Regions from separate parts of the Homo sapiens genome. Here all the other regions are linked to region 1. Evidence: fine-mapped expression QTL. A gene starts in region 1. Each other region holds a variant in brackets. All regions are shown on one strand. Distances are between the middles of the regions.

The links. PIP is the estimated chance that this variant, and not a neighbour inherited with it, causes the effect.
Region 2: its variant is fine-mapped to the expression of GPSM2 in lung (TOPMed, PIP above 0.99).
Region 3: its variant is fine-mapped to the expression of GPSM2 in pituitary (GTEx, PIP above 0.99).
Region 4: its variant is fine-mapped to the expression of GPSM2 in sun-exposed skin (GTEx, PIP above 0.99).

What each region holds. Positions count from the first base shown.
Region 1 is chr1:108,874,331-108,880,179 of GRCh38, forward strand. GPSM2 (G protein signaling modulator 2) reads left to right here and starts at 2,655. Exons shown (of 15, transcript NM_013296.5): 1 at 2,655-2,898. RefSeq lists an enhancer at 2,311-2,410 and silencers at 2,491-2,890, 2,981-3,050.
Region 2 is chr1:108,850,040-108,855,888 of GRCh38, forward strand. It overlaps AKNAD1 (AKNA domain containing 1), which reads right to left. Exons shown (of 16, transcript NM_152763.5): 2 at 1,633-2,728. The coding sequence starts at 2,625. Among named protein-coding and RNA genes, the nearest start is that of AKNAD1, 4.1 kb to the right of the region's middle. The variant C/T (reference allele first, on the strand shown) is at 2,444.
Region 3 is chr1:108,694,233-108,700,081 of GRCh38, forward strand. PRPF38B (pre-mRNA processing factor 38B) reads left to right here. Exons shown (of 6, transcript NM_018061.4): 2 at 1,470-1,538; 3 at 1,811-1,962; 4 at 2,045-2,105; 5 at 4,372-4,595; 6 at 4,930-5,849. The coding sequence ends at 5,788. Among named protein-coding and RNA genes, the nearest start is that of PRPF38B, 4.8 kb to the left of the region's middle. The variant C/T (reference allele first, on the strand shown) is at 3,401.
Region 4 is chr1:108,828,129-108,833,977 of GRCh38, forward strand. It overlaps AKNAD1 (AKNA domain containing 1), which reads right to left. Exons shown (of 16, transcript NM_152763.5): 10 at 2,431-2,522. The region is part of intron 2 of LOC105378891 (a long non-coding RNA gene); the gene reads left to right. Among named protein-coding and RNA genes, the nearest start is that of AKNAD1, 26 kb to the right of the region's middle. The variant C/T (reference allele first, on the strand shown) is at 2,784.

The DNA of each region.
Region 1 (5,849 bases):
TGTAATGAATAAGCTGAGAGCTGAGGATGAAAAGAAGCCAACCATTTAAAGAGCTTGGGGAAAATCTAGGCAGGGAGGAGGTCCTGAGAGAACCTTGAGGCTTAGTCCATTCTAGGGCATGAAGAATGCCCTGTGTACTTGGAGGAAAGTGAGGCAGCAGGAGGAAAAAATAGGAGAGAAGAGAGAAATTGGCAGGGGCAAGATGGCTTAAGGCCTTTTCCCCCACAGGAAGTTTGGATTTTATTTTAAATTAAATGGGAAATCACTAAAGGTTTACGAGTACGAGAGTGACATAATCTGACTTATGCCATTTAAAAGATATTTTTCAATTTGAGTGATTAGGAAGATGGAAGTAACTAATATCAGAGATAGAAATCACATATGTAAGAGAAGATTTGCAGGGGGTAAATAATTCTGGACATGTTGAATGTAATGTTGTACTTCTGGCTGGGTGAGGGGGCTCATGCCTATAATCTCAGCACTTTGGGAGGCCAAGGCAGGAGGATCCTTTGAGCCCAGGAGTTCAAGACCAGCCTGGGCAACATAGTGAGACCTTTTCTCTACTGAAAAAATAAAAATAGCCAGACATAGTGTCAAGCTCCTGTGGTCCCAGCTACTGGGGTGTAGGGGAGGGGTGAGATCGGAGGATCACTTGGCCCTGGGAGGTTGAGGCTGCTGTGCAGTGATCTCCAGCCTGGGTGACAGAGGGAGGTCCTGTCTCTCTCTCTATATATATAAAATTTCCTTTGTGGCTTTCACAGTATCCATACTTTAAAAGAATTTATAATTAAGAAGGAATTAATACCTACCTCTGAAACAGTACAGCCAACCAATTCCATTGTTATTTACAAGAACCTGATATTAAAGATGGTTGTAACGATAATAGGTATCAAGTATGGAGCAGTTTCTATGTGTCAGGCCCTATGTCAACCACTTAACAACCTTACCTCACAGAAGCATCATAGCAACCCTTATTAGAAGAGGCTTTATTATGTTTTACAGGTGGGGAAACTAAGACTAAAGAAGATAACTCATTCAAGGTCAATCAGCAAGTAAGTAGCAGAATTGGAACTCAAACCCAGGTCTAGTTTGATGATAAAGCTGTTCCTTTAAGCAATTTGCCATAACATGCACCTAATGGGAAATGTTGCTTGGATCACTGGTTATGGCCATCATTCACGGAGATACTGAACCCGGAGTTTTCTTTAACATAGCCTTTACCCTGTAGAAACATTTAAACTTCATTTCAGAAGAGAAATATCTATTTGAAAAATAATCTAAGTAAATTCATCAGATGCTTTACCCCAGAGAGACTCTGGTCTTGGTATTTTGGTTTTTGTTGTTGTTTGAGACGGAGTCTCGCTCTGTCGCCGAGGCTGGAGTGCAGTGGCGCGATCTCGGCTCACTGCAACCTCCGCCTCCTGGGTTCAAGCAATTCTCCTGCCTCAGCCTCCCGAATAGCTGGGATTGCAGGCGCCCACCACCAGGCACGGCTAATTTTTGTATTTTTAGTAGAGACGGGGTTTCACCATTTTGACCAGGCTGGTCTCCAACTCAGGTGATCCCCCCGCCTCGGCCTCCCAAAGTTGCTGGTATTACAGATGTGAACCACCGCGCCCGGCCGGTATTTTGTGAAGAACAAACTATAAGGTGACTACTATTTTGGGGTCACCTTGACATGGAGGAGAGGTGAATGGAAATAAAACTTATTCTTCCCAGTGTCTTTAGAATGTAGGCGCTGAAACTGAGTGAAACTGAGTAAAACTGCCACCCAATTTTCCTGGGAACCAGCGATTCTGTAGTCAACAGAAGTTTGCTTTTCCAACAGCTGGAAACGCCAGGGTTGGGCACAGCCTCAAGAACTGAGGCTGCCTTGTTCAGACTTTCACACGGTCCCTCTGTTCCTTCCACAGAGGCCTCTTTTTCTTCTATATCCCGCATCTGCCGCTTGGGACACTCATTCTGTAGCGCAGCACCAAGTCTTCCAAAAAGGCGGCGCTGGTTTTGCGCTCCTTTTTTAAAGGGATCTAGGCCAGCCTCTATCTGAACTCTGTACGATGTTTTTTGTTTGTTTGTTTTGTTTTGTTTTTGAGATGGAATTTCGCTCTTGTTGCCCAGGCTGGAGTGCAATGGTGCGATCTCCACTCACGGCAACCTCCGCCTCCCGGATTCAAGCGATTCTCCTGCCTCAGCCTCCTGAGTAGCTGGGATTAAAGGCATGCGCCACCACTCCCAGCTAATTTTGTATTTTTAGTAGAGACGGGGTTTCTCCATGTTGGTCAGGCTGGTCTCGAACTCCCGACCTCAGGTGATCCGCCCGCCTCGGCCTCCCAAAGTGCTGGGATTATAGCCGTCCGTCACAGCGCCCGGCCAACTCTAGACAATATTTATTGCTCTACTTTTTAGTGTCTGAAGAAGAAAGAAGAGGACAGGAAAGAAACTTCAGTCTGAGGGTTGAGGACACGTCCCGGAGCAGAGGAGGACCAAGCTCCCAAGCCCCCTGTCACCTTGACACGCAGACGGTTCCCCAGGACTGCGAAGAGGGGGGCAACCAGCGCCCCGCCCCGCCCCGCTGCGCCGCCCGCCATTGGCCGGTCCGAAAGACGCGGGGCGTTGTCGGTTTGAATGAGAGCGCCTGGAGCCGGGGCGCAGGCGCAGAGGAGGGCGGTGTTGAGACCGGCGGAGCGGCGGGACCCCTAGGTGGCGGAGGGACGCTCCGGGAAAGCGAGGGGCGCTACGAGCTCTGGCCCACGTGACCTGCCGGGGGCGGGAGCAGGGGGCGCGCCGGCCTCCTGCGGTGCCCCTGCCTTGGGGAGGGGCCGTGACCACCCGTCTGTCGCCCGAGGCGGCCGCCGCTGCACCTTCACCGCGTACCCGGGACCCGCCCGCCCGCGGGAGGTGAGCGCTTCCGCGACGCGGGTTCTGAGGCGTTTGAGGGGCTCTCGGAGGGAGGTGACAGGGAGGGGTGCGTGTGCGTGCGTGTGGGGCTTCTGTGTCCAGAGGTCTGGGGGTGACGTCCTTTGTTTTGGGCAGGAGGCGGGCTGGGGGCTTGCGGGACCTGTGGGCGCTGCGGGGACGCGGCGTCGATGCTCAAGAAACCAGAAACTCGGCTTGAGGAGTTGCTGCTTTTTTGTCGGAAGGTCTTCAAATGAGAGTAAAGCGTTAAGAGCCTCACTCCTGAGTCTTTTTTTTTTTTTAAGATAAAAACTATACTAGAGTCCAGCGACTTCTTACCACTCTGAATGTGAGTAACAAATTGTGAATCAAAGCCCGAATCCCCGTGGAATTCATTCCGAGGCTGATTGCAATCACTTGGAGTCGGGCGCGTCCTACCTAAACCAGGCAGTTTATGGCAAATACCTGCCTTGACCGTGCTTAAATTAGTGAACTTTTGGGCACCAACTGGTCGATTTACCATAGAAATTGGTAGTTGCTGCAAAAAGAGTAAGTAAACATAAAACGTTAAGAAAACTCTTTCCTGAAATCTATAGAATACCTTCGAATAAAAAAAAATCTGTAATTTCCTTGTTTTAATAGTAACCAGTTAGAGCATTTGAACTAGTAGCATTTGAACTCTGTTAAAGAAAACGAGTAAGGATGGAAATTTTATTGGCCTTAATGCATAATTTAACCACACCGTAGAATTAAACGAAGTAGGTTCTTGGCTTTCCTTTCTATCGGGTTTGCATTGGAGCGTTCGTGGGGTGTGTTGGAAGTCAGCAGGACCAACAGAGCTGAGTTTTCAAGCTGCCACTTTAGAAGGGTGTACCGAAGATTTCTGGCCTGATAATAGCCGGTGTGATTGCTTCTGATAAATACCACTTTTGATTGGGTTCTCACTATTCAGGAGCAGCTTTAGTTGATTGTTTAGAAGTGAATAAACAACATTAAAAAGGGTAGATCACTGTTGGTTGACATGGTGTGTGTAAGGAGAGGGGGGCCTCAGGGATTAGGGGTGGTCTCACACCTACTTCTCTTTACAACTACCACGGAGTCGTTTTCGCAAGCTATTTCCCAGGCTATTACTTATAATTTAAGTATTGGAGCGGTTTCAAAGTAAAAAGTTGTGTGATGTTGTTGTAGAGGCATGTCTCCAAAATCCTCTCTGGCCAGATAAGCAGTTTAATTGTATTTTCTTACATTCTTAAATCAGATATTCGGTGTTACAAACATATTTTAATATAGATCTGAGACTTGCTTACTAGACTAATTAAAACAGTGATAAGATATAGTAGTTTTAAAAATGACCTTTTCATAAACATAAAATATTTCTAAGATCTATCTTTAGAAATTTGTAATTAGTTCTCTGGAATTTTAAAATGGAAAATCTGACATAGATTTAGGTTATTCTAAATTTATTTGAATATATATTAAATATGTCTATTTTATAATAACAGTTACTGTTATTACTACAGCACTATGTTGAGTACTTTTGTTATGTATCAGAGCCAGGTGCTGGGTCAGGTGCTTTATAAATCATGTCTGTAATTATCACAGCACATTTTAGGTAAGTGTCATTATGCCCACACCAACTGAGAGTTTAGCGTAAGATCATATAACTAATAAGTCACTGTGCCGAGATTCAAATCATGGCCTGATCCCAAAGCACATGCTGTATTGCTTCTGTGTGTCTGTTTAAATCTCTGCTGTGTCTCTGGATTCCATTTGTAGGGACAAGTTCTACTTTAAAGATGCCTTTAGGTGCTGTGTTTTGTTGTAGCTTCGCAGAAATATTTCAATCTTTCTGTTGGAACTATCTTGCTTCATTATTTTATAAATCATCTTATAAATCACATTATATTTTCAATATCTTCTTAATCATCTTTATACAAAACATAAGTGAAGAGTAAGACTTTTCTGAGTTTCTTACATAAATATGAATAGAATCTTTACTGTGGAGAAGAAATGTATTACAGTCCGGTTTTCTCACTATTGTAGGATTCTTTGGCCTCGTCATAATTCCTGTCTTCTTCCCAGGGAAGAAATTAAAGTTTGTTGGGCCTCTCTTATGTGCAAAGCAATGTCGTTGGTGTTGTGAGATGACAAGAAAATGCTTCCTATTCAGTAGTTGTTTCTGGAGTTTTTGTAGTATTTTTCTTTTCTCCCCATTCCTGCCTTATATGTTGCTGCTGGTTTATCTTCCTAGCAGAGATCCAACTTGGCTATTCCTTTGTGGGGAAAAAATACCAGCAAGGTTCCCCATTGTGTAAATAAAAGGCTGAGGCCGGGTACGGTGGCTCACGCCTGTAATCCCAGCACTTTGGGAGGCCGAGGTGGGCGGATCACGAGGTCAGGAGTTCAACACCAGCCTGACCAACGTGGTGAAACCCCGTCTGTACTAAAAATACAATAGTTAGCCCAGTGTGGTGGCACACGCCTGTAATCCAAGCTACTCAGGAGGCTGAGGCAGGGAGGCGGAGGTTGCAGTGAGCCGAGATCGCGCCACTGCACTCCAGCCCGGGTGACAGATCAAGACTCCATCTCAAAAAAAAAGGGGGGGCTGAATATGAATATATGCTTCTGCCACATGTTCAGAGTCCCTCACAGTTTGTTACTGTTCTACCTTCTCAGCCTTCTCTTTCACTACTCTGAATACTGTGTGCTTATCCTGGAACACATTCTGTGCATTTCTACCCTCCCTTTTTCTTGAGCCATTCTTTTCCCTTGACTGGAATGCCTTTCCTTCATTTGGCTAATAAGATCTACCCATCCTTCAAGGTGCTGTACAAAATTCCTTGCTTCCAAAAAGTTTTCCCTGGTCCTTTTCAGTTAGAATTATTATTCCCATATTATCACAAAACATTATTGAATAGAAACATTTATTTTCCCACAGAATGGTGATAACTTTT
Region 2 (5,849 bases), 24 kb before region 1:
AAAACTCATGGTAGCCACACTCTAGAGAATAACAGAGGATGCATTAAGTTCCAAACTGTGTGTCAAGATAGTGATGGTTTTCTACTCACCACTGGCTAATTGAACAGTTTAAATTCCAGAGTGATTCACCTTGTGGGGTCTTTCCTTTGTTCCCAACACATAAAGCTCAGAAACACGCTAGTGCTGGAGAGCTGGTCAAAATGGACTATGGTCTTTCTAGACATCTCAACTATATGACGGATATGAAACCTGCAGTGTCCAATTCTCCAATCTGAATTGACAGAACTGGAAAAAATCAGATACCTGACCTCGAACCCCCATACCAGAGGGAGAAGAGCCTGATATCCATCTGCTCCTGCTAACCACGGGGCACTGAGAACTGGACACAATGAGGATGTTCTCCTGCAAGCAGAACAAGGAACCCCGACACTTCCCAATACCACGGGGGTGTAGGTTTCTCTCAGACCTAGAGAGCATCCCAGTCATGGCCAGGTGGGCTGTTGGCTCAGGTTTGGATGTAGGGGGTTCTGCTCAAACTCCCCAGGCATTCAGTTGAAAGAGAGGGGAGCTGAAGTGTGAAAATGGAAATGGAAATTAAAAAAAAGAGAGAGAGAGAAAAATCACTTCCAAGGTTAGGTTACAGAAAAAGAGAGAGAATGGAAATGGAAACAGGCAGTGTGGTTCAGTCCAGGACACCTTCATATAAGGCTCAAAGGAAAGATCATGCACTCTAGGCAAAGTGCCCAAGAACTAAAATGTATATTTTGATTATTAAGATGGATTTACCTTACTATTGGGCCTCAAACATCAATGAGATCCTGAGCCTCAGCATGTTGAGAAGTTGGTGGGGGAGTGTGAGAAGTTGGCGTAAGGGAAAGGGGGAATAGCATAAATTAAGCATTAACAAAGTTTTGTACCAAATGATTACCAAGATAACAAGCTTGAAATCCATTACTAACGATCTTAATTCCATTGGACTTAGCATGAATAACTAAGGGCATAACGTACGTTAAGACACGAGGCCAGGCCTCTGGGGGAAATTAGGCAATGGAAAGGCGAAGATAAGGTTGCTGCCCTCCAGAGCCTTAGAATCTAGTGGAGGAAGCAGATGCTTCTGCTATTAAGATCCAAAGCAGGCTGAGATACACACTCTGATGGAACGACTAAACAAGTGTGGAAAAGGTTGTGACTTAGGAGACCTGAAAAGTTATGTGGCCCAAGGGGGAATTGAAGGAGGCCATGAAAACAAGCAGGTCTTTGGCAAGTCAAGATGGGATGTGCCACGCAAGGCAGGAACTCAGAGAGCTCAGGGCCTGGGAAGAGGTTCTGGACCAGCCAGGTAACTGCAGATGACTCCTGAAGGAAGGCAGCTAAGTTTAAGTGAGGAGAGCCAAATTCCGGCTTGCGGAATTTGGATTTTATTCTCTTATATGTTTTTGTCAGTGTAGCCTGTGATGCTTCTCGTGAGGACACTGAGAGTCGGAGTGGCCACGTCACTCATCCAGGGTGACCCAGGGTGCTGAATGAAACTTTGGAACTAGAACCAAGCTCTATTCACCCTCCAAAAACCCACACTGAAAGAGATAAGCAGTGGTCCCAATTAATGTGTTTACAGGAGACTGTTTCATTTACCTGGATTTGTTGTGAAGGTTCAGTGATTTTCCCTTTCTGCTCTTGATGTTGTTTTTCAACACAGTTTGACTCAGGCGTGGTTTCTAGACTATCTTGCACAAGAGTGGGTTTATCTCTCGACTTGGAAGAAAAGCTGGCTTGTTTAGCTATTGCAAGTGGTTTATTAATTATCTTATTTTTAGGAATTTTCACTTTGGGAGCAATCTTAGAGAAATCAGGGAGCTGGTAATGAACTTGACCTTGGCCGTATTTGAACGTGTTGCCTGAATTTGCTTTTTCAGTCTGCTGTTTCTGGGGTGACTGCCCTTGATAACTTTTTTGTTTATCACCTGGACCCTTGGTTTTAGTTAGAACATTCACATTTTCTTGATGGCTGCTATCTCCAGCAGCCACTGGCCCTTCTAAATCAGAGGTATTTTCCTCTGTCGTGGTGGCAGAACCAGGCTTATTGCTGTTTTCACCATCCCTTTTCGGGTTGAGTTGGTCAGTGAGTTCTGGGGTTTGTTCTTTTGGCCAAGAATTCTTATTATAACATGAAATAATACTTTTAATAATAGCTTCCTCTTCAAAACTGTCGGCATTTGAGATCTCTGGGAGGGTTTCACAATCAATGCCTTGACCTCTTAAGAATGGCTCTTTGGAAAGATGATGAAGTAAAATATCAGAAATGCTTGACTTAGAAGCGTCTCCTTCATTTGCTGGAATATGAAGAGCTGCAGTGCATTGTTTCTCTTTCTCGTCTTTTTTGTTGGCAGCATTTTCAGTAATTTTACCCAGGGGTATGGTCACAGCTGTATTTCCACAAGTCTCA[C/T]TATGCATAGCCTTCTCTTGAGGGTCATCTGCTATGAAAATAATTTGATTTAAGACTTCAAGGCCATCCTTTTTTGAGGTAAAACTGTAATCATTGCCTATCTTAATCTGAGAGAGGTCCCCATCATAAGGCAAATCCTCCTGCTTATAAGTCGTGTGTTCTGAAAAATCAGCCTCATCCATGTGTGTGCAGCCCGATCGCTCTCGTCCTCTGCCTCCTGAGCTGGCTGCTGTCAGTTGTAACAATAGCTCTGGTTCTCACTGACTGTCTTCACTGTGTGCTATTCTGTGTGAAATGAGAACAGCCTCATTGTTAAATATATTGGAATAATGTATACAACTATGCCAGAACAAAGTGGATGTTTTTTTAATTTGAAAAATTCAGTTACAAACAGGAAGGCAGGAAGCTCAACCACAAGCTGACCCAACCTCAATCCACACTATGTTAACACAATCAGTAGAATAACAGCAAGGAATGGGGGAAAAAAAAAAAGAGAGTGTTACATTTTTCATTTATTAAATTTTGAGGATGACATTAGTCTACAGTTAATGGCCAAATACTTATCAACCTCCCTTAGGAGATAGTATTTGGAGTTTATTCTCCCAAAGTAGGAACTTGGGATGCAAGTAAAGGATTGATTTTTTTTCTTTTTTCTTTTTTTTTTTTTGAGACGGAGTCTCGCTCTGTCGCCCAGGCTGGAGTGCGGTGACACAATCTCGGCTCACTGCAAGCTCCACCTCCCAGGTTCACCCCATTCTCCTGCCTCAGCCTCCCGAGCAGCCGGGACTACAGGTGCCCGCCACCACGCCCAGCTAATTTTTTGTATTTTTAGTAGAGATGGGGTTTCACCATATTAGCCAGGATGGTCTTCATCTCCTGACCTCGTGATCCACCCGCCTTGGCCTCCCAAAGTGCTGGGATTACAGGCGTGAGCCACCGCGCCCGGCCTGATTTTTTTTTTAACTACCAGAGCCACGCCTTGTCCACGTGTCACTGACAGTCTTCTAAGCCATGTGGCGATGGAAGCTGGCCTAGCTCACATGTAACACCCACCTTCTCCATTCTGGTGCCTTTTCACCTGTCCCTCCAGACCTTCTGGTCCCCTTCTCCTGACTTTCCCTTGCATGTCTGAGAAGGGCAGAGAAGGACTTACAGAAATATGACCAAGGGGCCGGGCACGGTGCCTCACACCTGTAATCCCAGCACTTTGGGAGGCTGAGGCAAGCGGATCACCTGAGGTCAGGAGTTCGAGACCAGCCTGGCCAACATGGCGAAACCCCCATCTGTACTAAAAATACAAAAAGTTAGTCAGGTGTAGTGGCAAGCACCTGTAGTCCCAGCTACTTGGGAGGCTGAGGCAGGAGCATCGCTTGAACCTGGGAGGCAGAGGTTGCAGTGAGCCGAGATCAAGCCACTGCACTCCAGCCTAGGTGACAGAGAGAGACCCCGTCTCAAAAAAAGAAAAAAAAAGAAATGTGACCAAGGGACAAATAGGCTTTCAAACACCTGGAGGCCAGTCTGCAGCCAAATGTCCCTTTTCTAATTTGGACTCAGGCAGGAACCTAGTCAGAGAGGCTGCCTTCCCTGAACAACCCCTGCCAGCCACCACAGCCCAGGCGGCGGTCTGGTGGTACCAGACTCTTTGGGGATATTCCTGAAAATGGCTGGAGTAAAACCAGCTGCCATTTGGTATGAGTCCTATTTTCTCTTTTTTAAACAAAATTTAAAGCACCCATTCAGATATCTCTTCCTGATTTGTGAACTTTTGGGATGATTCCTCAGAAGTAGTAATCTCAAGTTTTAAGTAGAGTAACTGAGATTCCCTCTCCCCTGGAGCACCAGCCCAGGGTGACCACAGCTGCTGGCAGCCTCCCTTGCCCATACAATGATTATGTTGGGTGAGCAGATCTCTGAGGTTCTCTCTCCAACCAAATTTTTATGAGTCTATAAGCTGGTGATTTATTAGGTAACCTCAAAAGCTAAAATCATATGTTTGACCAAAATAAATTTTTTTGAACTAAGTCGTCCAAGAAAAAAAGGAGTACAAACTAAATGTGGTAAAAGCATCTGTGAGACATTGTACAAAAATCTTAATTTATAGACACATGCCAATGTTAGAGAACCCAAATTAAACAGATGCTCTGTTTAGAGAGGTGGAGAGAAAGGAGAATATCACTGCAGGATTATTTTAAATCATTTAAAGAGGGTAACATTTAGTATAAAGTGAGGCATGTCTTCATGAGAAGAATTACAGGCTATTCTAATCCAAGTTGAAGAACAAGGGAAAAGGCTTCCCAAGAAAGTGAAAGGCACAGTGGGAAAGCAGAAGTGGAGAGGCATGGATCTGAATACTCTGGCTTCTCTGCTTTCTAGCTGTGTGTCATCTGGCAAGTTATTTAACTCTTGTGAGTCTCGGTTGCCTTTTCTGAGAAATAGGACTAGCAATACCTGAAATAAGGCACTAAAGTACTCGGCATAGGGCTTGGCACAGAGTAAGAATTCCATACATTGTTGTTGAAAAATGAAAAAACAAAACCAGTCTCAGTATTGGAATACTGAAGAATGCCCAGGTCCAGAGGTGAGGCACTCCTTATCCGTGGGGATATTTAAAGGATAAAGGAAGGAATTGCATATGTAAAACATAATCTCGTCCAAGCAAGGTGGCTCATGCCTGTAATCCCAGCACTTTGGGCGGCCGAGGCAGGTGGATCACGAGGTCAAGAGATGGAGGCCATCCTGGCCAACATGGTGAAACCCCGTCTCTACTAAAAATACAAAAAATTAGCTGGGCGTGGTGGCGCACACCTGTAGTCCCAGCTAGTCAGGAGGCTGAGGCAGGAGAATCACTTGAACCCGGGAGGCAGAGGTTGCAGTGAGCCAAGATCGCGCCACTGCACTCCAGCCTGGCGATAGAGTGAAACTCCGTCTCAAAACAAAAAAGACATAATCTCTACAAGAACTTTAAGACAATTTTAAAACTCAATCTGTAAATAAATATATTTGAAGGTAAAAAAAAAAATCAGGCTGGATGAGGTGGCTCATGCCTGTAATCCCAGCACTTTGGGAGGCTGAGGCAGGTGGATCACTTGAGCTCAGTAGTTCAAGACCAGCCTGGCCAATGTGGCAAAACCCATTTCTACTAAAAATACAAAAATTAGTTGGGCATGGTGGTGCATCCCTATAGTCCCAGCTACTTGGGAGGCTGAGGCAGGAGAATCACTTGAACCCGGGAGGCAGAGGTTGCAGTGAGCCGAGATCATGCCGCTGTACTCCAGCCTGAGCAACAGCAAGACTCTGTCTCAAAAAAATAAAAAATAATAAATAAATAAATAAATCACTAAGCAAGTTTAAACAAAATATTGTCTAATTTTTTAGAACAAAAAAAAACAGAGTATCTTTTTTTTTT
Region 3 (5,849 bases), 180 kb before region 1:
AATAACATTTAATCCTTAGCTTTATTTATGCAGTAAACTTTAAACAGTTGAAAATTGGGTTCCTGCTCTTTCTGCGGCAGGTTCTGTTTTCTAACATAGGCAAAATGTTAATGTAATAGAGGAAAGTCTCGTTTTTAAGTTTCAAATGTGTTTTGAAACAAGATTCTACCAGGAATTGTTTTTAAATTCCGTTAAAAAACTAAAGACCCAGTTTTTTTACTAATATTAAGAAGACTTAAGACTTTCAGATCAAATACTCACTGAAATTTATAAGTTTCCAACTTTGTAATTTTATTTTGTATGCATCCAGCCCTGCCTTTGGCTAGCTTTTAAGGAATTGAAACATCTTTTACATGGCAATCTGTGGGGAAGAAAGGAAACGTTAAAGCACTGCAAAATAGTGTAGTGCTTAAACTTACATGCACGCTTTTCTATCTAAAGCCATTGTTCAGGACTACAAAATTTACCATGTGGGTGGAAATAGAATTTTAGAAATATGCAGTGAAAAAACAGGATTTTTTTTTATGTTTTTAAAAAAAAACAAAGATGGGTCTTCCCAAAAGACCTTTTTGGATTCTATTTTAGAGTTAATATTCTTTTGTTGTTGTTGCTGTTGTTGTTGCTATTTTTAGATAAGGACTAGTTTTTGTAAGATGTTCCTCTTAGCAAATATGATACTGTATCATCTTTGATGATACTTAGTATATGCCAGTGACTATTCACACTCAGTTTTTGACACAATTTATATTCTGGGGAATAATTGGATTGGTTCACACATAATTAGGCTGAAGCTTAATTACAACAATGATCTCTGTAAGTGTGGCCTTTGTAATTTTATCTTTAATCAGGAATAAACCTGACCCTGGTGGAAAAAATGTACAAATAAAAAGTTCCATAATTTTGCATCACAAGTAACTCGTTACTGTTTTAGAAAATTTTCTTCAAGTAATTTTCCTTAATTTTATAATGTAGATTTTAAATTACAATAAAATTGAACTATTGAAGGTGTTTTGAAGTTTTTAAATTAATGCTTAACGTTAATACTTTTTGCTTTAAATTGGAGACTTAAATCCATTTTTAAAGGAAAATGTTAAGCAACCCATAAGTTAAATTGTCAAATATTATCAAAGTTAAAATATTACCAAATAGTTTTTGCAACCAAGTGAGACTATAGAAATTTTCTGACTCCCAGATGTAGATATCAGCTCTTTATAAAGCTAGTTGAGTGGGATTTCTCCTCTGCAAAGCTATTAAGGTTTTGTTAAACCCTAGTAGCTTTATGGGTGCTGTCTAAATGTCTAAGCAGTTTTTCCAAAAATGATTTACACACTTAATATCAGTAAACATATACTTAATGCCAAAATAATTTTGGAAGAGCTGCTCTATTATGGACTTGGGTTTACTTTTATCAGGCTTTTAAACAAATTCAAAGTATGAATGTTTGTTGTGTTCCTCTTTTCTATTTTCAGGTCACGCACGTTGAACCATGGGAGAAAGGAAGCAGGAAAACAGCGGGCCAGACAGGGATGTGCGGAGGGGTAAGTAGAAGTACGTGCATTTTTCAGTTTTTCTGTGTCTAATAACTAAGTTTATATTTAGAGAACTAGAGGCCTGTCAATTATACACTTGAGTGACAATTTTTTTAATCCAAATTCAAGTGTTCAGTGAAATAGGGTTAGAAAAGTGTTACTTTTTAATGCTCCTTAGTTCTGGATTATGGATTGTTATTGATACCTAACAGGATTAATCAATTGGTGTTAAGAGTCCGTTAATTATTTTACTACTTTTTCTTAACTCGTTTCCCCTAAAGGTTCGAGGTGTTGGAACAGGAGGAATTGTTTCTACAGCATTTTGCCTGTTATACAAATTATTTACCCTGAAGTTAACTCGAAAGCAAGTGATGGGTCTTATAACACACACAGACTCTCCATATATTAGAGCGCTTGGATTTATGTATATAAGGTGAGCGTACATTTATGTACATTTCCAGTAAATATCTCATTTTAATTCACATGTGTTTAATAATAGTCTTTTGTAATTCTAGATATACACAGCCCCCTACAGATCTGTGGGACTGGTTTGAATCCTTCCTTGATGATGAAGAGGTATGTCAACAAGGGTAATAATTTGTTTTCTTCTGATTACTCTCATATTTTTATTATCTTTTATTTATTGGTGGTTTAATGTCTTCAAGAACTTCCTGTAGTTAAATTTATTTCAGTGAGATACTTTTGGAATTAATGTCCTTTTACTGAGACCTGATGGCTTTTATGTATTTTAGGGTAAATTTCTGAAGTTTTATTTTCTTGTTTTAAAATTGTTTAAATGTGTTTGGTAACTATTGGAAAATTTTCTCTTCTTAATTATGTTCTGTGTATTGTATTGATCCTGAATTGTATAGTTAATAGTGACTTTTCAAGATGGGGCATGCTCAAGATCGAACAGATAATAAAAGATATGCACATAGAATACTAATTGTAGCTTTTTTTTCTTCTGGAACATTTCAGTTCTTCACCCTCTAGCTTCTTCCAAATATCAGTATTCCCACTTGCATAGAAGTGCAGAATTGAAGAGTTGGGTGTTACATAAATAGGCTAAGTGTTTGGATGACTTGTTCAAGGTGACAAAATTTTAATTCCAGTTTTCTGACTCCTAGTACACCACACACACCTTTAAAAAAGAAATTTTTTAAATTGTAATTCGAGTCTCCCTAATTTGAAATCTGAAATACTAAGTTAGATTTAAATCGTGTATGCATTGGCTGGGCGTGGTGGCTCACATTGTAATCCCAACACTTCGAGAGTTCAAGACCAGCCTGAGCAATATAGTGAGACCTCATCTCTACAAAAAAAAGTTTAAAAATTAGCTGAGCATAGAGGTATGCATCTTAGTCCCACCTACTTGGGAGGCTGGGGTGGGAGGATCACTTGAGCCCAGGAGACAGAATTTGCTGTGAGCCAAGATCATTGCCACTGCATTCCAGCCTGGGTAACACAGTAAGACCCTTTCTCAAAACAAAACAAAATATCATATATGCATTAATTTACTTGCATGGTGAAGTCCAACATGTCAAAAATGAAATGATGAGCTGTATTGTCCCTATGTCTACCCAGTCTACTACTTTGTGTTTTAAGGTTCATAAGACTTTTTGAGTGCTATGTGTCAGTAGTCTATTTACAGAGTTCATCCAAAGAATTTATTGAATTAAAGGATGGTTCTAATGGAAATCTATTGTGTTTTGTTATTACATGCACACCTAAAAAAAAAAAAAATCTCATTTAGACATGGAGAATTTTTATTTTTCTCTTTTTTTTTTTTTTTTTTTTTGCCTGTTAACTGAGTTACTTCACTCAGAAGAAGCAAAACGTGTTTTAAATCACAATCTTTAAGGTCTTTTTAT[C/T]TTTAGATCAGTTTTTCAGACTGAAGTGCTTCTCCCTTCTGTCTTTAAAAAAGCATGTTCCTCTTCATAATTGGTGTTGTATTGGTTTTGTTTCTGGATGCCTCTATTTTATGTTTTTTATTGTGTTTACAAATCTGAGGTCCTCTATTTAAGCTAACTTATTGTTTTCTTCCTTAGATATCTGCAGCGATTATATTTGGAAATACTGTATATCTGAACACTTAAATGTGTGTGAGTGCAAGCAGTTTTACCTTTAGCTCTTGTTTTCCTGTTTAGATAACAAATCTCACTTTCCTTGTGTGCTTGCACTATAGGTTTGGGACTGACAATAGCTGACTAACATGTCCTGAGCTGTGAGAGGGCATAGCAAGAAGGCCTTCATGCGGTAATGACCCTTTTCAGAGACAATGGTCATCATGGATTATGCGTTTCCAATTATTTGTTCATTTATTTATTTTCTACATAACTAAATTAGAAACCTCACTGCTTCATGGCAGTTGGTTTGCTATTGCTTCCAGTTTTATTAGGGCTTCATTTTATATTAGAGCTGTTAAAAGATAACCTTTAGACAGGAATTATCTAAAGTAGATCATATGTAGCTAGGTTATGGTGCAAGGTATATGATGTGTGCAAATATGTCCACAGAAATAAATACATAGTAGGTATGTGGAATGTAAATTTAAGTCAATCGTTCCGCATAGTTTAGAAATGTAAGGGGCTTTTTCATATTGTTAACTGAGTGAGATCAGTTCCCTTTATGCCTGTGAGGCTGCAGGGTTTGTTCTCACTTGCATGCACACACTAAGCCCAAATATTTCTGTTCATTCATTGTCAGATCAGGATATGAAAATAAAATTTTTCTGTTAGTTTTTTTTGTATTGAGATTCCAAAGATGGTAATATTTTTATAATATTCATGTATATATGGAAATACTTTTTTTGACGGCTAGGGTATCTTTTGTGTTTCTGTAGGACCTAGATGTGAAGGCTGGTGGAGGCTGTGTAATGACCATTGGAGAAATGCTACGATCTTTTCTCACAAAACTGGAGTGGTTTTCTACCTTGTTTCCAAGAATTCCAGTTCCAGTTCAAAAGAATATTGATCAACAGATTAAAACCCGACCTAGAAAAATCAAGAAAGATGGGAAGGAAGGTGCTGAGGAAATAGACAGACATGTTGAACGCAGACGTTCAAGGTAATGTCACTCTTGAATTATGCTTATTTTTCATATATGCTTTATACAAAATTAATGGTTCTGAGAAATAGCAAGTTCTTAGGAATTTGTTTTTACTGTTCATTTTATTAGTTTGTCACTTTTACCCCCCAAAGATTATTTTCTTCCTTTCAGGGCTTTTTCTATAAAATTATGCATCTGTAAATGAGAACAATAAAATTTTTTGCTTTAATGATTCTTGACATGGCCTTAAGCTTGAGGACATGAATAAATAATGCTGTTGAAAGTTTTACTGTGAAAAGAATTGCATATGTTTTATTCATTGAAATTTTCTTTCTCCCTCCGCCTTCCTTAGGTCTCCAAGGAGATCTCTGAGTCCACGGAGGTCCCCAAGAAGGTCAAGAAGTAGAAGTCATCATCGGGAGGGCCATGGGTCTTCTAGTTTTGACAGAGAATTAGAAAGAGAGAAAGAACGCCAGCGACTAGAGCGTGAAGCCAAAGAAAGGGAGAAAGAACGGCGAAGATCCCGAAGTATTGACCGGGGGTTAGAACGCAGGCGCAGCAGAAGTAGGGAAAGGCATAGAAGTCGCAGTCGAAGTCGTGATAGGAAAGGGGATAGAAGGGACAGGGATCGAGAAAGAGAGAAAGAAAATGAGAGAGGTAGAAGACGAGATCGTGACTATGATAAGGAAAGAGGAAATGAACGAGAAAAAGAGAGAGAGCGATCAAGAGAAAGGTCCAAGGAACAGAGAAGTAGGGGAGAGGTAGAAGAGAAGAAACATAAAGAAGACAAAGATGATAGGCGGCACAGAGATGACAAAAGAGATTCCAAGAAAGAGAAAAAACACAGTAGAAGCAGAAGCAGAGAAAGGAAACACAGAAGTAGGAGTCGAAGTAGAAATGCAGGGAAACGAAGTAGAAGTAGAAGCAAAGAGAAATCAAGTAAACATAAAAATGAAAGTAAAGAAAAATCAAATAAACGAAGTCGAAGTGGCAGTCAAGGAAGAACTGACAGTGTTGAAAAATCAAAAAAACGGGAACATAGTCCCAGCAAAGAAAAATCTAGAAAGCGTAGTAGAAGCAAAGAACGTTCCCACAAACGAGATCACAGTGATAGTAAGGACCAGTCAGACAAACATGATCGTCGAAGGAGCCAAAGTATAGAACAAGAGAGCCAAGAAAAACAGCATAAAAACAAAGATGAGACTGTGTGAAAATATTTTGTAAAAGTGGATCACATTGAATCCTATAAATGATTAAATCTGCTTTTTTCCC
Region 4 (5,849 bases), 46 kb before region 1:
CAGGGGAAGAAACTATGCTATACGTCAGTAATGGGTCACGTAGCTTTGGTCCTGGAAGTACAAGCTGATTACATCCAACAACTCCAGCAAAGTGGGCTTTGCCGGGTGTCTGTGGGACTAAAGGCTGAGGGAGCACGTGAAGGTGATTTTAGTTGCACATGGCCACCAGGTGGCGTCAGAAAGAAGCAACTGCAATGGACATTGTTCAGGAGCCTTCCTGTGGCCCACCTGCAGCTTCCTCCCTCCTCCTCAGAAATCCCAACTCCTCCAAAGGAATTCGAATTAATAACAGTTCTGAACAAAGCTCTTGCTAAGCTCCTGGGATACAGTCATAGCCCCCAGGGAAAGTTGTTCATTCTTAGTATGGAAGGCACTGTGCCCGAGATATCCTGGCATAAATGAGGCAGATTGCCCAGGGCTAGGGTTTGAGCCCAAGGCATTGCTGGGCAAACACATGCTCGCCGCGCTGTGCCCTGGCCTGCTGTTGGCGGAGAAGGGATGGGGCTGCGGGTTTGTGGGGCTGGGGCTGAGAAGCCAGGCTCTTTCCCTCCTCTTGGAAAAACATGCTGTCCTCTTGAGTCACATATTTTCTCACACCTCATTTTCTGTCTCCACCCTTCTCCTCTGGGGCATTTGAACATCTGCTCTCCAAAGTGGGAAACTTGGATCTCACTCAAGTGCATGCAGTCCAACACAGGACTTTTTCTGCTTTTAAACTCCTTTGTGTACTCAAATCTTCTGGCCAAACATAATTCCTCTGGAGAAGACAGTTTTTCAACAAGACAAAGCAGCTAAAGTACACACTTAAATCCAAAGTTTTGCATCAGAAATAACATAAAGGGATAAGCATATTTTACATTTTATACATATGTAATTTATCCACTTATATATAAACAATTTACAAATATCCTGAAAACAGTATGTACCTCAGCAAGCTTCATAAAGGACAAGTCCCATCAGAGAGAGATTTAATCTTCTAACAGAAAGAATATATAGTCCTCCCTTCAATCAATAATTCCTCAGGGATTATGTAAGTTACAAGATTTTAATTCATAAGTCATGTGTATCTTCTCATCACTCCCCAGCAGTGGATTCACTGTGAGATTTGATTTTACACTTGGTTGTGCTTGTCTTTCCAGCTTGTCTATCATAAAAAAGTATTATTTAGTCTGGAACATTGGTCCCTGTCTTGGTACTTAATGTACTTCTGTAGGGTCTAGACTAGGAATTTAGAAGAGAGAAATTTAGTACCTTGAGTGCTTAATAAAAATGGTTCTTTAATGTCAAAATACTTTCATTATACTTAGTAAAACCTTTAAAAATCCAAAATTAGACTTTAATTCAATAAATAAAAATAGTAGGCCTGGGATGACTCAGTGAGTAAGCTTCATGAGTGCCCCTTGGATTAAAGGGCAGCTCAAAGCTGATGACTGACATGGTGGTTTAATGACCCACACACAATGACACATGACCATTTTTAGCACGAGCTTCATGCAGTTTCTTTTTTCAGGGGTGGACACTCATTAGAACTCTTAAGGCAGGTGCCCATTCCCACAATGGAATGCTTTCTAACAGGAAGCCTCAGTCTTTCAGACCCTGTCATCTGCTTCTATTAGAATCCATTACGTACATATAACAGTGGTTGCTAAACACCTGCTGCCTCCCTGACTCTTGACCTTCCAAAGGTCAATGAGCCGAGCTTTGGCCGGAGTCCACAGTGAGCTTAGAGGTAACATCTCTCGCTACCTGAAAGAAGCTTCAAATAAATGATACTGAATCGACACAGATTAATAGTTGCACCAATGGGTGTTTCAAAAACAAAGGATTTCTCCTGAGGATTTTACATGATTTACAGCTTGTTAGCTCTGGAAGATTTCGTCCTTAGGAATGGGAAGAAATCAGCCCTGAGAAGAGGGATGAGGCTTGTTCCTGGGACTGGGGGGCTCAGGTGAAACCCAACAGAGAAGACTTTTGCTCATCATAAGGAGAGAGTAGGGATGGTGGGAGCTGTTTGTTATACAGGATAAGAATCCCCCATGTGGGCAATGATCAAAAGCCTACAGGACCACCCTCCGTGGGCTGTAACCATGATTCTTAACCAAGGGGGCTTATCGGAATCACCTGGGGAGATTTAAAAGCAATATTCCTACCAGAGCCCCACCGCTGGCGATGCTGAGACAGTAGGTGGGATGGAGGCATGTGCATGATTGTAAAATCTCCCATGGTGATTTTGATGGTCTCCCCAGTTGAGGACCACTGCTAGAGGATCTGTAGGGTGCGAGGGAGGCTGGGCTCTGTGCCCAGGCCTGAGATCTGTGACTCTATAACTCAGCCAGTGGCCTCAGTTAGTTGCCGCCCACTCTCACTGGAGTTACTATGCCAGGACTGACTCCAATCCACCCTGGGAATGTAGCCACAAGAAGCCCTCACCATTCAAGGAGCCTGCGACAGAAGGCACAGCTCGGACTGGGTGCCGTCATCTCTGCACAATCCTGCCTTCTTGGAGTGCCGTTGGGATCCTCCTGCGCCACAAAGCACACAGATGGAGATGTGATAGAGGATGTGACTCACGCCGCGGCTGCACACGCACAGCCCAGCAAGCAGCTGAGGTCCGGCTGAACTTGCCACCTCAGGCAGAGAGACTCGCCAAACCTCTCCTCCAGTTGGGGAAAGGGAGGCGCAGGGGGACAGGAGGGAAAGAAGAAAGAGCCCATCCTTAGTTCTGATGTGTCACTCAGTCGGGGCTGCGCCTCTAATGGCCTGGGCTGAAGAATGGAAGTTTC[C/T]ACCCTGGCTTGCTTCCTTCCTCCTCTAAACAGATTTTAAAATCTGGTGTACAGATGACAGAATACTCTCCCCTTTTTATCTTTCCCTTAGTTTCAAATTACTCCAAGCTTCGCCAGATAATGAACAGATTTAGGAACATAATTTTTAGATCTATTAATCTGACCGCTGGCTAGTAGAGCTCTAAAAGCCTTTCTAAATAAATATATTCAACTATGAATTAAAACAGGGTTTAGGGACTGTCTGGGGGCCTAAATGATTGGTTATATGTCCCTCTTTAACACAAAACAATTACTCCACTGACCTGTGAGGGCTGTTACCACCCACTGTGTATTTTTGACTAAGGTCTTACCCTTTATGTAAGTAAAAAATAAATGTACTTTTCCCATCATTATAAACAATGGCAGAAGCATCATTGTACACATAGCTTTTTCCACATCTTGGATTACTTCCTGAGGAAATGTCTGGGCCAAAGGTTGCGAACATGTTTGTGTGATGACCCATATTGCCAAATTGCTTTCCACAAAAGTTGTACAGATTTCACAGCCACCAACAGTGTGGACGGCTCAGTTTGACCACACCTTCCTCTGCATCAGGAATTATCACTTGAAAATGTTTCTGTTAATTGAAGGGAGGGGTGTGTCACCTTTTGTGTTAATTTGCATTTCCTCTGTGACTAAAGGAAATAAGTCTGTTCCTATATGCTGATTTATTGGTTGTATTTCCTACCTGTGACTTTTTTTTTTTTTTTTGAGACGGAGTCTCACTCTGTTGCCCAGGCTGGAGTGCAGTGGCCTAATCTCAGCTCCCGGGTTCAAGCAATTCTTCTGGCTCAGCCCCCCAAGTAGCTGGGATTACAGGTGCCCACCACTACCCCCAGCTAATTTTTTGTATTTTTAGTGGAGACAGTTTCACCATGTTGGCCGGGCTGGTCTTGAGCTCCTGACCTCATGATTCGCCCACCTCGGCCTCCCAAAGTACTGGGATTACTTTAATTGTGAGTAATTGTGTGAGCCACTGCGCCCGGCCTTACTTGTGACTTTTTAGCTCATGTCCTTTGTCCATTAATTTTCTTGGAGGGTTTCAGTGTTTTCCTGTTACCATTTGCTAGTTGTTCATGATGTGCCAGGTGCTTCCCTTATAGTCTCCTTAATACTTCCAACCATCCTGGCACGTTGTCGCCATTTTAATGGTGAGTGATCTGAGGCCTGGCGGATTTAAGCAATTTGGCAAGGTTGCATCATGAGTAAGTGGGAAAGCTGGGATTTTAACTTTTACCTATCTGACTGGTATGCTGTGTTCTTTTTTTTTTTTTTTTTTTTTTGAGATGGAGTTTCTCTGTGTTGCCCAGGCTGGAGTGCAGTGGCGCAATCTTGGCTCACTGCAACCTCCACCTCCCTCCCAATTTCAAGTGATTCTCCCACCTCAGCCTCCCTTCCAAGTAGCTGGGACTACAGGAACACACCACCCCACCCAGCTAATTTTGGTATGTCTTAGTAGAAACAGAGTTTCACCATGTTGGTCAGGCTGGTCTCGAACTCCTGACCTCAAGTGATCCACCCGCCTTGGCCTACCAAAGTGCTGGGATTACAGGCGCGAGCCACTGCACCCGGCCAGTATGCTTGTGTTCTTAACCACAGTTCTGCTCCTTGGGGAATTTGTCACAGCATTTGATATAATGAAGTTCTCAACAATGAACATTATTTGCCCTTAATATTTTCTCAGTTGTCTATCTACATTTTTTTTAATTGATGGTGGTTTCAGTTTTGTAAACAACTTAAAATATCAATATTGTCAAGGAGGAGGTGCGAGTGGCCAAGAAACATATGAAAATAGATTGAGTTTCAAAAATAGCAAGATTAAAATAATGAGATATCAGTTTTCACTTATGCATTTGGCAAAAGTTGGAAAAAGAAAAAAATGTCTGGGGTAGGCTCAAACTGGGGACACCAACATTCCCACGCACTGCCCTCAGCCTATAAACCCCCATGGACTTCCTAAAGGCCAGATTATCAGAATTTTCAGCATGTACCATTTGAACCATTAACTGCAATCCTAGGGTTTTATTCTAAGGAAATGATCAACTACAAATGTTTGCATGTCAAATGATGTTACCTGAAGCAGTGTTTATGATATCAAAGAACTGGAAAAAACTAAATCTCCATCAATAAGAGATTGTCTAAATGTGTCAGAGTACATTAGTATAATGAAATATAGTACAGTCATCAAAAATGAAGCGATAGTTTATTCTAAGTGATGTGGAGAGCTGCTCAAAATATAACATTAAATGAAAAGCATAAAACAATATATATAGTAAAATCCTATTTTGGCCAAAATGTATATATAGGAGAAAAAAAGACTGGAAGGATATACACTAAAATATTAGCAATGGGCCAGGCGCAGTGGCTCATGCCTGTAATCCCAGCACTTTGGGAGGCTGAGGTGGGTGGATCACCTGAGGTCGGGAGTTCTAGACCAGTGTGGGCAACGTGGTGAAACCTCCTCTCTACTAAAAATACAAAAATTAGCTGCACGTGGTGGCACATGCCTGTAATCCCAGCTACTCAGGAGGCTGAGGCAGGAGAATCACTTGAACCCAGGAGGCAGAGGTTGCAGTGAGCTGGGATCGCACCATTGCACTCCAGCCTGGACAACAAAGCGAGACTGTCTCAAAAAAAAAAAATTAGATTGATTTTCCTCTCAGTGGAAGTTTCTTCTTTATACTTTTCTTTATTTTCTCATTTCTCTTGTAATAAGCATGTATCAGTTTTATAATTTAAAAAAAAAGGGTTTTTTCATCCATTTTTCCCATGGTTTTTTTTTTTTAATTTTTATATTTTATCATTGCTGAGCTTACAGGGTTACTCCTCCACTGACATTTAAGGCAGATTTACATTAGCAGAATGCAGGGAGGTGCCCCTCCACCTGAGTTGGAGACCCGGGCATCACCTATCATTTACCCTGAACAAATATCACCTTTCTAAACTACTCTTCCTCTGCAAAAAGTCTTTGCAAACTGTAAAGCTCTGAGCCAACATAATTATTATATCATTGTTTACTGCTTATTA